2 separate regions of the Homo sapiens genome follow, and region 2 is linked to region 1. A link means that fine-mapping ties the variant in region 1 to the expression of a gene that starts in the linked region. Tissue or cell type: whole blood. Region 1 holds a variant in brackets; the other region holds the start of a gene. All regions are shown on one strand. Distances are from middle to middle.

The links. PIP is the estimated chance that this variant, and not a neighbour inherited with it, causes the effect.
Region 2: IGFBP4 starts here. The variant in region 1 is fine-mapped to the expression of IGFBP4 in whole blood (TOPMed, PIP above 0.99).

The regions. Positions count from the first base shown.
Region 1 is chr17:40,529,501-40,534,756 of GRCh38, forward strand. LOC107985090 (a long non-coding RNA gene) reads right to left here and starts at 4,974. Exons shown (of 2, transcript XR_001752884.2): 1 at 4,910-4,974; 2 at 2,746-3,579. The variant C/T (reference allele first, on the strand shown) is at 2,036.
Region 2 is chr17:40,440,413-40,445,412 of GRCh38, forward strand. IGFBP4 (insulin like growth factor binding protein 4) reads left to right here and starts at 3,038. Exons shown (of 4, transcript NM_001552.3): 1 at 3,038-3,672. The coding sequence starts at 3,324. RefSeq lists an enhancer at 839-888 and silencers at 2,935-3,124, 3,135-3,184, 3,195-3,244.

The DNA of each region.
Region 1 (5,256 bases):
AAAGGGTCTCACTCTGTTGCCCAGGCTGGAATGCAGTGGCGTAATCTTGGCTCACTGCAACCTCTGCCTCCTGGGTTCGAGCAATTCTTGTGCCTTAGCCACCTAAGTAGCTGAGACTAACAGGCGTGTGCCACCATGCCCAGCTAATTTTTGTATGTTTAGTAAAGTTGGGGTTCTGCCATGTTGGCCAGGCTGGTCTTGAACTCCTGACCTCAAGTGATCTGCCTGCCTCAGCCTCCCAAAGTGCTGGGATTACAGGCGTGAGTCACTGTGTCCAGTCCCCCCTTTTTTTTTGAGATTGGGTCTCACTCTGTTGCCCAGGCTGGGGTGCAGTGGTGTGATCATGACTCACTGCAGCCTCAACCTCCCAAACTCAAGGGTTCCTCCTACCTCAGCCTTCTGAGTAACTGGGACTACAGGTGTGTACCACCATGCCTGGCTAACTTTTTTTTTTTTTTTGTAAAGACAGGGTTTTGCCATGTTGCCCAGGCTGGTTTCGAACTCCTAGCCTCAAGTGATCCTCCCACCTTGGCCTTCCAAAGTGCTGGGATTATAGGTGTGAGCCACTGTGCCTGGCCCTGAGTTTATTCTTGTCTCCAGGAAACCCTTGGAATAATCATAGACCCTAGCCTTGGGGCCTTAGCATCAACTCATAACCTTGGCAGGATTGCCAGCTAAAATATGGGACACCTGAGTCATATTTGGGACATACTTATGTTACAAAAGTATTTGTTTTTTATTTGAAATTCCAGTTTAACAGGGCTTCTGTGTTTTTCTTTGGTAAACCTGACAACCCTAAACCTCAATCTCCGCCATTGTAATCCTGAGCAGTTGGGCTGTGAGCAGCCTACACTATCCCAGAAAGAGCCTGAGGGTCATGGTTTTCTGCCTGGTGACTGTAGGAGCACTGGAAGATCTCCCCTCGTCCTGGATCTCTGACTGTCTTTTAGCATCCTGAGTGTTCTCAGTGGGACCTGGATGTCCTGTGGCACCTGCCTCCCCCAACAGTGCCCAGCTAAGCTTCTCTTCTGCCCATCTCAGCAGCAAAGTGCTCATTCGCTCCACCCCACCTTTGCCTTGGCAGTGCCTGTCCATCTCCCTCCAGCCTGCTCTCCCCCTACCTACTCACCCCTACTGGGCTTAGGCAAGACACATGTGGGCCTGGCCCGCAGGGGTCCACAGGGCAGAACTAACTCATCAGCTCTAGGTGTGCTGAGTGGAACTGGAGAGGGAAGGGTGCCATGTGAGCTTGTGAAGACGGTGGGCAGTGCCTCCCAAACTTGCCCTATTGTAAAAATTGCCTAAGGGCTGGTTGGAAATGCTATTCCTGGTTGGAATCAGAGATCTCCTGGGAGGGGAATCACAGTAGCTCAGGGACCTGGCCGAGACTGGAGGCTTGGGGGTGGCCCCCTGCAAGGAAGCGCTGTCCAAGCAGAGGTCTGAAGGCTCAGTAGGAGTCAGGCAGGTGAGGCTTTGGGGGGCAGGGTGGGGATCCAGGAGAGGAAAGAGCATAGCAAATGCCTTGATGGGAGAAGAAGAGCCTGGCCTGTCTGAGGCCAGAGAAGAGGCCACTGTGGTTAGCGTGTGGAGAGCGAACAGAAAGGCGAGTTGAGCTTGGAGAAAGCAGGCGGAGCCACATCTGGCCAGGCCTTGTTGGGCTGGTTAAGAATTCAGCCTAAAGCAATGGTAATGGCCTGGGGCAGGCACCAACTGAACCTTTTTCAAAGGCGAGTCCTGAGTTGCCTCCCTCCTCTGATGTTTGATCTCTGAAGGTGCCCATGTTGCCTCCATCCTGCCACCCACCCCACCCCCAATCTGGCAAAAAGCCACTCACTCACCCAGCAGGGACTTTCCACTAAGTCTGGTGGGGGCGGGGGACCAGGGGGACCAGGGGGCTGTTGCTTGAGAGAAATGGGTGTGGGCATTTACCAACGGATTTAGAAAGTTTCCATATTAGACAAGTAACTTGAGAAAATACTGTTTTTGTTATTGAGAAGATGCTATAAATGTTCAAGTATGTGGTAGGCATACCACG[C/T]GTCCTTGTGTAATCCCCTCCCCTGAGTGTAGGCTGGACCTGGTGACTTGCTCCTAATGAGTAAAATATGGTAAAAGTGGGGGAATGTCACTTTTGAGATTAGACTATACAAAACTGGGACTCCCCTCCTGCTCACACTCTTCGAGACTTCTTTCTTATGTGTTCTGATGAAGCAGCTGCCATGTTGGAGGCTGCCCCATGGAACGGCCAACGTGCTGAGGAACAGAGGGCACAGGCAGTGAAGGGCATCGGGGCCTTGAATCCAGTGGTCCACGAGGAACTGAATCCTGCCAGCAACCACTCGAGTAAGCTTGGTATTGGGTCCCCAATTGAGCCTTGAGATGACTCCAGCTCAGCTGACAGCTTGACTGCAGCCTGCAGAGGTGCTGAAGTGGAGGACTCAGCTAAGCTGCACCTGGATCTGTGACCCACAGAAACTGTGAGATGATAAAAGTTGTTGTTTCAAGACACTGAGCTTTAGGGTACTTTATTATGCATCAAGAGGCAACTAGTACAAAGTATAATTTGGAGGAGACCAGCCATACCTGTACCCTCCTTAAGTATACATTTGTATAAGTTGAAATCATGGTGGGTGCACTAATTTTGAAGTCTTAAAAAATCACTTATCATTATGGGGGAGATATCATTCATCAGGGTCCATGGTCTGTGTATGTATCAGAGTCTGGCCAGAAAACAGAAACCACACCAGGTATCTTAACAAAATTTAATATGATGAATTAGATGGCTTAATAACAAGTACAGTGTGAAAGGTGAAAATCATCAATAACCAATCATCAAAATCACTCTCAGAAAATGTCATACATCATCAGGACCTGTGGCCTTGGAAACTCAAAAGCCAAGAATTATTGAGCTTATTGTGTTTGTTGCATTTAAGCTTCTCTTCTGTTCCTTTGTGGTGTCAGAGGCTGAGTTTATTTTGAACATGAACAGAGAGACTTCTCTCTCCTTGACAAGCGTGATTTGTTGAATTAGCTAGTTAGGTGGGAGTGTAGTGGTGATACACTGTGTAGTAGAAGCATTCTCCATGTTTCCATTCCCCATCACAGTCACACAGCTGTGGATTTCCAGGCCTGATTGTCCATTGTGTTGATGTCCCAGTTTATTAAACCACTTCCTTATTGTGGTTCCCAGTTTTTGACCTTTAAAGAAAGACTTCAATGCACACATGTATGCAGATAACACTTGGCTTCGTTTGGATAATTTCCTTGGAATAATTTCCCAGGGAAAGAGATTACTGGGTCAAAGGGGGAGGAAGAGCTTCATGCCTTTTGCTGGTAATTGCTTTACTGCTTTCCAAAGGCACTATACCAACCCAGCATCGACAGTTTATAGTGGATGAGGGGTCAGCTTCAGGGCACCAAGTTATTCACTCTTAGGAAATCAGCTTCCAGGTCCTTCATCAACCACCCAAAAGGGCCTGTAGATGTGAGAAGTGGAGTCCAGCACAGAGAATCCCGGGCTGAGAAGTAGGATGTCTGAAAGTCCAGCCTCGAGGCAGCAGAGTGAGCAGTTAACAGTATGACCTATGGACAACAGATCCTGAGTTCGAATTCTGCCTTCACCACTAAGTGACCCTGGGCAAGTTACTTAATTTTTCTAAGTCATTAGTTTTTTCATCTATAAAGCAGGAATTATAGCAACACTAAGCCTTGAGGAGGTGAGAGGAAGATTAAACGAGTCATGACATGTGAAGTGCTTAGACCAGGGACTAGCACTTGGTAAATATGTAGAGTGAGTGGTATTACCATTTCTATTATTCAGACGGAGACTCCATCTCCATCAGCCCTGCTTCTGTAGTGGCTGACCACCTCCTCTTCTGGGTTTCCACGTGAGACCCCACCCTGGTTCTTCAGTTTTTCCTGGGATCTCGTCTCTCTGAGACCAAGAAGCAGTCTTAGCTTTGAGATATTGAGTTGGATGGTCCTTGAATGCCCCCTTGTGGACAGCTGGCTTTCTTTCACTCTTTCAGCTGAAGAGGAAAACTGGCTGTGTGTGTGTGTGTGTGTGTGTGTGTGTGTGTGTGTGTGTGTGTGTCTCGGGGTGGGGAAGAAGGTGGGGGAGGCCTCCATGTTTGCAGACAAAACAGGAAATAGCACGTCATGGCATCTTTCTTGCCGGCTAGGAAGGCATGGGTGTATGGGTCTCTGTACACTTACATAAACATGGAGGGGAGCTGCATGTGCTGGTGTGCAGGTGTGTATGTGGGCATACACTTGATACCACTCTCCTTGTTACTGGGGTCTCTCACTGGGTTCTACTGAGACGATGTGATTAATGTGATTTGAAAAATGAAAGCCCTGTGCACACACGAGGACATTGTTATGTAGAATAGCTTGTATAACCATTCGGTTGATCCTTTCACTGATTTGGACATTCAGTCCCACAGTTGTTTATTGAGTACTTACTATGTACCGGGTCTCCTGAGGTCTGGGGAGGCTACAGTGACCAAGACAGAATCTGTTTCCATCCTCTCACAATCCAGTGGGTGAGACAGACAGGTGAGTAAACCTGTGGCGTGCTAGTCCAGCACTTGGTAAATATTCAGTAAATATGAAGAGTGAGTGTTTTTACCATATTCCCAGAGGAGGGGCAGAGCGGCTGTGGAGGGGGAAGGAAGGCTGCCTGGAGGAGGTGACATCTGAGCTGAGCTATGAACTGTGAGTGATCTATCCTCTCCCTGGCTTTGGGGCAGAGGGCTTGGTACAAAAAGCATTAGTGGGGTTTTGGAAGTGCAGGCTGTAACCCCAACTCCCTGAGCAAGTCCTTTTTTTTGGGCCGGAGTTTCCTCCTGGACTAAGTCAGGGGATTTGGCCATGAAAGCCACAGTTTCCATCAACTTTGATGTTTTCTGACCTTTTATTCCCTCAGCCTGAGGAATTCCCATTTCTTCCACTGGTCTTTCATGCCCCATCCTCTTCCCTAAAGAAATGAAAACCAGACTGAGTGATAAAAAGCAGTGAGACATTGGTATACACATGTAGGACACACACACACACTCTCACACACACACACTTTCTCACACTCTCTCTCACACACACACACACACTCACACACACACACACACAGACACACACACTCCTCTATTCCCGCCCTACCCCTGCTCTGCTGGAAACCTCGAGCTGCCTCCCAGGTCAGAGTGGTCTGACAAGGGAGGGGTGGAGTGCAGAGGCAGAGTGGAGGTGAGAGCTCAGCAGACCCAG
Region 2 (5,000 bases), 89 kb before region 1:
CTCCTGCCTCTGTGTCCTGGCACCTTTTCTCCTCTTGGGCTTGCTGAACAGGGCACATGTCTGGCATTGGGAGCAGAACTACTCTTCTCCATTCATTTTACTCTCACAAGAGCTTCAAGAGGTAGGATGGGTGGAGATGATCTACCTCCATGTTACAGCTAAGGTCAGTCAAACTCCAAGTTCACGCAAGTTGGTGGCAGAACAGGGTCCAGTGATGATCAAGGAAGGAGATGGGGTGGGGAACGTTTTCTTTTCTTTTTTTCTTTTTTTGAGACTGAATCCTGCTCTGTTGCCTAGGCTGGAGTGCAGTGGTGTGATCTCGGCTCACTACAACCTCCATCTCCTGGGTTCAAGCGATTCTCCTGCCTCAGCCTCCTGAGTAGCTGGGACTACAGGCACGTGCCACCACGCCTGACTAATTTTTTTTATTTTTAGTAGAGACGAGGTTTCCCCGTGTTAGCCACGATGGTCTCGATCTCCTGACCTCATGATCCACCCGCCTTGGCCTCCCTAAGTGCTGGAATTACAGCCGTGAGCCACCATGCCCGGCCTGGGGGCAGTTTTCTGAATCAGGCACAGGCTGGGCTTCCCCAGGGACTTGAGGAAGCTGGTTCTGTTTGCCCTTCTCCAAGGCATATGGGGCAGAAGGGTCCCCACTTCATCTATGAGATGGAATGGAGAGAACCCCAGAATCTTGGCCCCAGCCATCACTTTCCAGCCCTTCTGCAGTCTTGATGGTTGCCAGTAGGTGCCGTCAGTTTGCAACTTTTTGGTCTGTCCTGCAGGTCCGGCTGCCAGTCCCAATCTCCCTGCAATCATCTCTCAGTAAGTAGGAGGTAGCCCAATCCCCGTGAGGCTGAAAGACCCCTGTCCTGGGGGAAGAAGCAGGAAGAGGGTCTCTGAACTGCATTTCAGCTTGGCTGACCTGCAGCTTTCTAGGCCGAGACAAAAAAAAAAAAAAATCCACAGTGGGTTACTGATTATTCCTGGACAGGTACGCTTAACCTGAAACCAGCTCCAGTACAGCAGAAGCCTTTGTAGGGAAGAATGGGTGGGAATTAGCGGGGGCCTGAGAGGGAACCTAGGAGATGGATCTTTGCTCCAAATGCCACTCCAGGGCTCTTCTCAATTTGGGCAGGATTGGGCAAGGCTGGGGGAATAGGGATCAATAGGATTTTACAGAGGGTCAAGCCAGGCCCAACACTAGCCCAAGTAGCAACACTGGGTGAATTAAAAAAGCATCCCTTCCTTAAAATTCTTTTTTTTTTTTTTTTTTGAGACAGAGTCTTGCTCTGTCACCTGGACTGGAGTGCAGTGGTATGATCTTGGATCACTGTAACCTCCTCCTCCTGGGGTTCAAGCGATTCTTCTGCCTCAGCCTCCCAAGTAGCTGGGATTACAGGCATGCGCCACCACGCCCGGCTAATTTTTGTATTTTTAGTAGAGATGGGGTTTCACCGTGTTGGCCAGACTGGTCTCAAACTCCTGACCTCAGGTGATCTGCCCACCTTGGCCTCCCAAAGTGCTAGGATTACAGGCATGAGCCACTACGCCTGGCCTTCTTTTTTCTCTTTCTTTCTTTTTTTTTTTGAGATGGAGTCTCGCTCTGTCGCCCAGGTTGGAGTGCAGTGGCGCAATCTCAGCTCACTGCAAGCTCCACCTCCCGGGATCATGCCATTCTCCTGCCTCAGCCTCCCTAGTAGCTGGGACTACAGGCACCCGCCACCACGCCCGGCTAACTTTTTGTATTTTTAGTAGAGAGGGGGTTTCACCGTGCTAGCCAGGATGGTCTCGATTTCCTGACCTCGTGATCTGCCCGCCTCGGCCTCCCAAAGTGCTGGGATTACAGGCGTGAGCCACCGCGCCCGGCCTTCTTTCTTTCTTTCTTTTTTAGACAGAGTTTCCTTCTTTCACCTAGGCTGGTGTGCAGTGGTACAATTCTAGCTCACTGCAGCCTCCAACTCCTGGGCTCAAGTGATCCTCTTGCCTCAGGCTCCCGAGTACCTGGGACCACAGGTGAACGCCACCACACCTGGCTAATTTTAAAATTTTTTTGTAGAGACAAGGTCTCACTACGTTGCCCAGACTGGTCTTGAACTCCTGGGCTCAAGTGATCCTCCCGCCTCAGCCTCCAAAAGTGCTGACATTACAGGTGTGAGTCACTGCTGCAGGCCCCTCAAATCCTTCACTGCCATCTGGGAAATGATCACAACAGCTCTACAAATACACAATGATTACAAGGAATGGTGCCCCACTGGAGTTGTTCAACGCAAAACTTGCACATTGCAAGTGGCAATCTCCCAGGCCTGCCTCCCTCCACGAGTGGGTCTGAATGGGCCTGAGAGGCAAACATCCAAGAAGGAGGAAGAGGCTCGGCGGCACCTCCCTCCCCGGGAGTTCTGCTGATTCCATCTTGGGGAAGCAGGGTGGACCAGGGCCCAAATGCGCCCTGGGGAGATTGCGGGGGCGGGAGAGGTTGCAAGGGGCAAGTGGCAAGAGCCTGTTAACGTCTTAGGGCCTCCAGGCCTTTCTGTGCCCCTAGCTGTGCCTGTACGCTTTACCCCACCTCAGGAGGCTTGGTCTCCAGCGGTTGAGGCTGGAAGCACCGGGGTGCGGTGGAAAGGGCTCTGTCCAGGAAGACCGGATCCGCAGAGCCGGGAGTCCGGGCTAGGAAGTCCCTTTCTCGGTGGGAGACTGAGGCCGCCTTGGCGGGGCGGGACGAGACTCCTCCGAGGTCGGGAAAGGGGGCCCCGCAGCAGCCCCTTGGCTTCCCTTCTCCCTTGCCTCCCCTCCGGGGCTCCGGTTCAGAGGCACTCTGGGCGCCTGCTACAGCTTCCAAACTGCGCCGCTTCCTTCTTCGGCAGAAAAGGACTTTCAGATGCGGCGGCGGCGGCGGCGGCGACTCAGGACAGCGCCCCCTCCCCCTAACGGCCGCCTCTCCCTCTCCCCCTCGCCCGCCCCGGCTCCCCCACCTCTGGGAAGGCGCTGGGGGTGTGGCCAGGGACCGGTATAAAGTCCGGGGGAGCCGGTCCCGGGCAGCCGCTCAGCCCCCTGCCCCTCGCCGCCCGCCGCCTGCCTGGGCCGGGCCGAGGATGCGGCGCAGCGCCTCGGCGGCCAGGCTTGCTCCCCTCCGGCACGCCTGCTAACTTCCCCCGCTACGTCCCCGTTCGCCCGCCGGGCCGCCCCGTCTCCCCGCGCCCTCCGGGTCGGGTCCTCCAGGAGCGCCAGGCGCTGCCGCCGTGTGCCCTCCGCCGCTCGCCCGCGCGCCCGCGCTCCCCGCCTGCGCCCAGCGCCCCGCGCCCGCGCCCAGTCCTCGGGCGGTCATGCTGCCCCTCTGCCTCGTGGCCGCCCTGCTGCTGGCCGCCGGGCCCGGGCCGAGCCTGGGCGACGAAGCCATCCACTGCCCGCCCTGCTCCGAGGAGAAGCTGGCGCGCTGCCGCCCCCCCGTGGGCTGCGAGGAGCTGGTGCGAGAGCCGGGCTGCGGCTGTTGCGCCACTTGCGCCCTGGGCTTGGGGATGCCCTGCGGGGTGTACACCCCCCGTTGCGGCTCGGGCCTGCGCTGCTACCCGCCCCGAGGGGTGGAGAAGCCCCTGCACACACTGATGCACGGGCAAGGCGTGTGCATGGAGCTGGCGGAGATCGAGGCCATCCAGGAAAGCCTGCAGCCCTCTGGTAAGGTACCCCTGGCCTCCCAATTCCCTCCTGAGTGCGCTCCCTTCCCAGCGGCTTCTTCCCCATTCCAGCCGCCCTGGAAGGCCCTTAAAAATCCCCTATGAGTTGAAGAGAAGGCAGGTACGTGGCAGGGCCCGACTGGCATGGGACAGGCTCATCAAGGAAACTGCTACCGAGTCCCTAGCAGCCTGTTGCCACCACCAAGGGAGACTGTCCCATCGCTCCATCTCAAACCTCCAAGGGTTGTCTGTTTGATAAGGGGGTCCCAGTGGGAGGCCTGGCTGCTGGTGCAGGAGTGGCAGATTAAGGTCCAGTTAAGTCAGCTGTCTAGGGCCAGAGAACTGGAGGATGGTGGTGGGGTGTGTGTTGGGGAGGATGAGGGAGTGGGGAAAGCTTTCTGTTCCTGATCCAGGCCGAGGGTGAAATCCCAGTGGTCTGGGGAGCCAGGGCCTGAACTTTTTTTTTACATGGTCCAGTGGTGGAGTGGGACATACAAATTAGAGGGACTTTGGCGTTGAGGGGCATTAGACTTGCCCTTCCCCAAAGCCCAGAGCCAGGTCACCTTGTTGTTTGAGAGGCAGTGGGAAGACAGGGGTCCCTCTGCCAGGCCTGGACACCTCTGCCTGCCCTGGTATACAGGCCCCCTGTTCTTTTCTCCAGGCAGGTAGGATTTGAGGTGGTAGAAAAGTCTTGGCTCCTAGCCGAGAGCTGCAGGAGCCTCATGTGTGTGGGATAGGGAATAGAGAAGGGGCCAGGGCGCCAGGGGAGAGAAACAGAGAGAGAGAGAGAGAGAGAGAGAAACACACACACACACACACACACACACACACACACACACACACAGAGACAGAGAGAGAGAGAGAGAGAGAGAGAGAGAGAGAGAGAGAGAGAGAGAGAGAGACTCTGAGAAGGCCCTTGCCCTAACCTCATTCTTACACTTTCTTTTTTTGTTTCTCAGTTTCTCCTTAGACTCTCAGTCTCTTTTCCTTCTTTCTCTTGCTCTTTTGTTCTTCCTGATTTGTCTCTCAACCTCTAGTTTCACTAGTCATGCTCTCGAGTTCTGTTTTCCTCAGTGTCTTCTGCCCATCGTGCGTTTCTTTCTCCACCTTATTCTGTGTTTCTGTTTCAGTTGCTCTGCTTCTCTCCCTCTCTTTCTGTTGCTGTTTCTCTGTGTCTCTGTCACTGTTGGTCTTTCCCTGTTACTTTGGGAATCTCTCTGTCTGTCTTTCTGTATCTATGCCTCTGTTTCTCATTCCATCTCCGACCCTGTTTTGCTCTCCTGTGCCTCTGTCTGTCTCTGTCTCTTTTCCTGGTGCTTGAAGCTTCCA